Linked DNA regions of Homo sapiens: region 1 is linked to region 2. Evidence: fine-mapped expression QTL. A gene starts in region 2. The other region holds a variant in brackets. All regions are shown on one strand. Distances are from middle to middle.

What was found. PIP is the estimated chance that this variant, and not a neighbour inherited with it, causes the effect. A credible set is the group of variants that fine-mapping cannot tell apart.
Region 1: its variant is the best candidate, but not a certain one, in a credible set for the expression of ZCCHC14 in whole blood (GTEx, PIP 0.56).

The regions. Positions count from the first base shown.
Region 1 is chr16:87,512,257-87,515,159 of GRCh38, forward strand. All of the region lies in intron 3 of ZCCHC14-DT (ZCCHC14 divergent transcript), which reads left to right. Among named protein-coding and RNA genes, the nearest start is that of ZCCHC14-DT, 20 kb to the left of the region's middle. The variant C/T (reference allele first, on the strand shown) is at 1,559.
Region 2 is chr16:87,491,420-87,494,322 of GRCh38, forward strand. It overlaps ZCCHC14 (zinc finger CCHC-type containing 14), which reads right to left and starts at 1,605. Exons shown (of 13, transcript NM_015144.3): 1 at 250-1,605. The coding sequence starts at 819. It overlaps ZCCHC14-DT (ZCCHC14 divergent transcript), which reads left to right and starts at 2,768. Exons shown (of 4, transcript NR_110943.1): 1 at 2,768-2,816. RefSeq lists a silencer at 1,544-1,723.

The DNA of each region.
Region 1 (2,903 bases), 21 kb after region 2:
ACAGTCTGGGCTCACTGCAAGCTCCACCTCCCAGGTTCATGCCATTCTTCTGCTTCAGCCTCCCAAGTAGCTGGGACTACAGGCGCCCACCACCACGCCCAGCTAACTTTTTTGTATTTTTAGTAGAGACGGGGTTTCACCATGTTAGCCAGGATGGTCTCGATCTCCTGACCTCATGATCCGCCTGCCTCAGCCTCCCAAAATGCTGAGATTAAAGGCGTGAGCCACCGCGCCCGGCATTTTTTTTTTTTTTTTTTGAGACAGAGTCTTGCTTTATCACCCAGACTGGAATGCAGTGGCATGGTCTCAGCTCACTGCAACCTCTGCCTCCTGTGTTCAAGCAATTCTCCTGCCTCACCCTCCCCAGTAGATGGTATTGCAGGTGCGGGCCACCACACCTGGCTAATTTTTATATTTTTGGCAGAAACGAGGTTTCCCCCATGTTGGCCAGGCTGGTCTCGAACTCCTGACCTCAGGTGATCTGTCCACCTCAGCCTCCCAAAGTGCTGGGATTACAGGCATGGGCCACTGCGCCCTGCCCTTATTATTATTATTTTTTTTTGTGGAGACAAGGTCTCACTGTGTTGCCCAGGTTGATCTTGAATTCCTGGCCTTAAGTAATCCTCCCACCTTAGCCTCCCAAAGCATTGGCATTAAAGGCATGAGCCACCACACCCGGCCAAGATACATAACTTAATCACATCTGCAAAGTCCCTTTTACCACATGAGGTCACATCCACAGGATCTGGGGATTAGGACGTGGGCATCTTTTTGGGGGCCGTGATTCACTCTGCCACAGTGGGTACACAGCAAGCCAATGATGGGGGTAATTAAGTTAGCATTAAATATCCCACGTGTTCTATGTTCTAGAGCAGTGATCATGCCCCTGGGGTGTGAGGTGATCCACTGAGGACCAGGAAGAAGAGATGAGATTATTGCTTAAGATTAAGCAAGAAATCAGGTTTTATGAATATTGACTCTGAGCTGACACTGGCTCTCTGTACCCATGACAGTCTAGTCAGAAAAACAGAAAACGCACTGGTTAGTTTAGCAGAGAGAATTTAATATTGGGCATTGGTGGAATGAGGAATGGAGGACTAAAGAGGCAGAAGGGGGACCTGAGGTCACAGGCAGGGACACCCCTCAGGCTTGGTGGCACTGCGGTGGTGGCTTCTCAGCTGTCACCCAAGGGAACCTTGCAGGATGAATGGGAGTTTCACGGTGAAGTCCCATCTGACAGTTTGTTAGCTCTTTTTTTTTTTTTAAGTGAGACAGGGTCTTGGTCTGTCAATCCAGGCTGGAGTGCGGTGGTGCGATCTCAGCTCACTGCGACCTCTGCATCCTGGGCTCAAACAATCCTCCTGCCTCAGCCTCCCAAGTAGCTGGGACCAGAGGCATGCGCCAACACACCTGGCTAATTTTTATATTTTTTGTAGAGATGGGGCCTCACTGTGTGGCCCAGGCTGGTCTTGAACTCCTGGGCTCCAGCAATCTGCCCACCTTGGCCTCCTAAAGTGCTGGGATTACAGGCGTGAGCCACCACACCTGTCTGTTACAT[C/T]TTAAAATATGGCAACATACGTTGGTGAAGTATTGGCTTACCAGAGTGGATCTGTAGCTGCTGGTACCTATCTTGTCTGGTTCTAACTAAATTCGGTGTATGCCTTAAAAAGATTCATACAAAGGAACTGTGGAATGAAGGAAACACTAACAAGCCAAGCAGAGTAAAGAGTGAGAACGCATCAGAGCAGCTGTCTTATTCCTGGCCTGTGCTCTTGGTCAGACATATCCCAAGGTAAAAACAAAGGCAGCCAGCCAGTCAGCCCGCAGAGGACAGTCACACGAACCCTAATTATCCAGAAGTCTAGTCGAAGTACAGATTAGAAAATCCATCATTGTTGACAATAATCCTCACCCCAAATGCATATTTTGCCTTGAGATGTAATGGAAACCATCATAATTAGCAAGACATTAAAAAGAATATTGTTTGTTTAATCTTTTACTTGGCATTTAGAAATTTCCATTTTGGCTGGGCGTGGTGGCTCACGCCTGTAATCCCAGCACTTTGGGATGCCGAGGCGGGTGGATCACCTGAGGTCAGGAGTTCAAGACCAGCCTGGCCAACATGGTTAAACCCCGTCTCTACTAAAAATACAAAAATTGGCCAGGTATGGTGGTGTGCACCTGTAATCCCAGCTACTCAGGGGGCTAAGGCAGGAGAATCTTGAATCTGGGAGGTGCAGGTTGCAGTGAGCCAAGATCACACCACTGTACTCCAGCCTGGGCAACACAGCAAGACTCCATCTCAAAAAAAAAGTCCATTTTGTTAGGAGTTTTATGATTATACATAAAATATGAGAGCAGCAATGCATATATATAATTCTTAAGTTTTAAGATACACGTATATGGTGGGCACCTGCGGGAAAGGTTTTGCCCATTAGGATCTATGATCTAAACACTTTGGAGACTCCTGCCCTGAAGAATTCATGTCTATGAGCTATCCAAAAACCCAGACCAGGCCGGGCGTGGTGACTCATGCCTGTAATCCCAGCACTTTGGGAGGCCAAGGCAGGCAGATCACTTGAGGTCAGGAGTTCAGGACCAGCCTGGCCAACATGGTGAAACCGCATCTCTACTAAAAATACAAAAATTAGCCAGGTGTGGCAGTGTGCGCCTGTAATGCCAGCTACTCGGGAGACTGAGGCAGGAGAATCGCTTGAACCCGGGAGGCAGAGGTTGCAGTGAGCTGAGATCATGCCATTGCACTCCAACCTGCACAACGAGAGCAAAACTCCGTCTCAAAAAATAAAAAAAAAAAGCTCAGATTAAACAATGATTATAGATGTTTTATGAAATCAATCAAGAAAGTTCATAAAGAGGATGACCACAATTTTTTTTCTGTCTGC
Region 2 (2,903 bases):
GCGGAGGCTTGGGATGTACGGTGGAGGCTTGGAGAGGTGGGGCACACATTTGGGGTGCGACATAGAGGCTTAGGATGGGGCTTGGGATACGGGCTGGGGGCTCGTGGTGCAGGTTGGAGACCTGGGTGGGAGCTCTCAGTGCAGGCTGGAGGCGTGGGTCGGGGGGTCGCGGTGCAGGCTGGAGGCTTGGAGTGCAGAGTTGGGGATGCAGACTTGGGGTACAGGGCAGAGCTCGGGGCGGGCACGCACCTTGTGGCAGGCTGGGCAAGTGGGCAGCGCGCCGCCCGGCCCGGGCGCGCCCTTGCCGCCGTGGCCCCCGCCGCCGTTCAGGCTGCTCTGGATCTGCGTGAGCTCCTGGCGCAGCACCTGCTTCTGGTGGAAGCTGAAGGCCGGGTGGTTGGAGGCCATGGTGAACAGCAGCAGGAACTCATCGCCCGTGCGGCCCTCGTTAAGCTGCAGCCCGTAGTTGTGGATGATGGAGTCGATGTGCGTGAGCGTGCGGTAGAGCACGCCCGCCGCCTCGCGCTGCTCCGAGCCCAGCAGCGCCAGCGACACCAGCAGCTTGCTGCGCACCACCTCGTCCGTCAGGTTGGTGAGGCTGCCCAGGTCGGCCGGGTTGTTGGCCTTGATCTCCGAGTCGCGCAGCGAGTGGTAGTCCTTGCGGGCCAGGTCCTCCAGGCACGAGCCGAGGAAGCGAAGCTCGAGCGGGATGCACAGGTCCAGCAGGCCGCACAGGAACTCCACGCGCTGCGGCGACGGCAGCTCCGAGAACCAGCGGTACACGCCGTCCCTCTGCAGCGGGCAGCGCTTCTCCACCATGCTGCCGCCCGCGCCGCGCCGCGACCCGGGGCCGGGGACCGCGCGGGGGCGGCCGGGGGGCGCCGGGGGCCGCGGCCGGGGCGCGCCGGGACCGGGGACGCGCGGGCCGGGGCCGGGTCCGGGCGAGGGCGCGCGGGCGCCGCGGGCCGGGCGGGCGCCGGGGCGGGGGCGGGGACCGGGGCCGGGCAAGGCTCCCGTCAGGGGCCGGCGGGCGGGCGCGCGCGGGGCGCCGGGGGGGCCCGGGGCGGCCGGGGCGGCCGGGGGCGGCGAGCGGCCTCGGGCCCCCCGCTCACGGGGAGGCGCCTTCCCCGCGCCCGTGCCCAGCGGCGGCCGGTGCGCGGCGGCGGCGGCGGCTGCTCCTCGTCGTCGTCGTCGTCGTCGCCCGGGAGGCGGCCGCCCCCATCTCCCCCCGCGCCGCAGGGTCTGTCACTGCGGGCCGCCCCCCGACGGAGCCGCCCCGGCCATGCCGTCGCCGCCGCCCGCGCCTCCGCCCAGGCCGGCCGTTACCCCGGGCCGCGGGCGCGGCGTCGCCGCCTGGGGAGCGCTGGGGGCCGCGGCCGCGAAACGGACGCTGGAGGGGGAGGGACGCGCGGCGGGAGGCGCGGAGGGATCCGGCCGGGACTTGCCGGCCTTGCTGCTCCCGCGCGGCGGACGGATCCGGGCCCGAGCGCGGCGGCGGCGGCGACGGCGACGGCGACGGCGACGGCGACGGCGGAGGAGGCGCCGGCCGAGGAGCGGAGGGATCGTCGCGCTCGCGGCTGACGGGCGGCCGGGATCAGCAGAAGTGGGCGGGGTGGCCGCCTCTCGCGACAGCCCGGGCCTGCCGGGCCCGTCCCCCCCCCACTGATTGGCTCAGGCGGCCCGTTCTCGGCCCGTGATTGTGCCGGGTCCCCAATCCCATTCGCCCGTTCCGCGGCCACGCCTCCCTGGGGGCTGTCGATCATGTTGGGGCCACCGCCTCCCGTCCCTCGGCGGCCGTCAAGACGCGATTGGTCCGCGGAATCGGAGAGGCGGAAAACCCGGGCTGGATTTCTGGTTGCTTTTGTTCCCGCAAATTTGCGTGGAGCATTGTTTTTCGGCGAAAACGGGGCGTTCGGCCTTCCTGCTTTATTTTTGAGCGGTGTAAGAGGGAGGTAGTGGGTATCTTCGAGAAACGGCCGCCGCGGGGTCCGGAGCCCCGGGTTCCAATCCCGGGTCGGCCACTGCAAAGCTGTGTGACCTTGGGCGAGTCACTTGGCCTCTCTGAGCCCCAGGCGCCTCCCCGGGAAAAAGAGGGTAATAATAACCGCCCCCGAGGTTTGTGCGAAGGTGTTGAGCTCACAGAGGGCCGGCACCGGCACTTTTGAGGCGGCTGACTTGCCCTGGGGGTGTGATGGGAGGTGCAAGCTTTCTCCAAAAGCCTCGTCCAAATGGAGCCTTTAAATCCGCCTTCTTTCCGCGGCTACTTCACCAGCTCGCCAAACGCAGAAAATGCAAACACAGGGGAGGGGGCAAGGGAGCTGACCTGGCTGGAAGTAAACAGAAACGCCACCCTCCCCTGGCACTTGCATTGGCACCGGATTGCAGGTGGGGGAAGGGCCGGTGCACCCAACCACCTTTAAATCCCACCACTTACACACAGGCATAGAAGTAGAGCCGCGGGGGCTGGACGCTCATTCCTCCCCTGCCCTTCCCCTAGAGCGCTGCTTTGAATGTCTGTTGATCTAGAACGGGGTCTGTTCATTCATGGGTTCCAGGTCCCAAGCGCCCGGGGGCAGCTGAGAGCAAAGCTGGCGCCCTCCCTACCCTGTGGAGCTTACACTCTGGTTCTGGGCAGTGCACACTAGAGATTGGTTAAATCAATGAATGAACTTTTTCAGGATATGGTCCAAGGTGCTGAAAACTTCCTAACAAAACTCTTCAGCCGAATCTGGCACGCCTGTGGTTCCAGCTACTGGGTAGACCGAGGCAGGAGGATCGCTTGAGGCCAAGAGTTTAAGACCAACCTGGGCAACATGGTGAGACCCCCCCTCCCCGCCCCAGTCGCTCCAAAACAAACAAACCCCACATTCTCCAGTCTTAGGTCTTCGAGGATGAACAGAGAT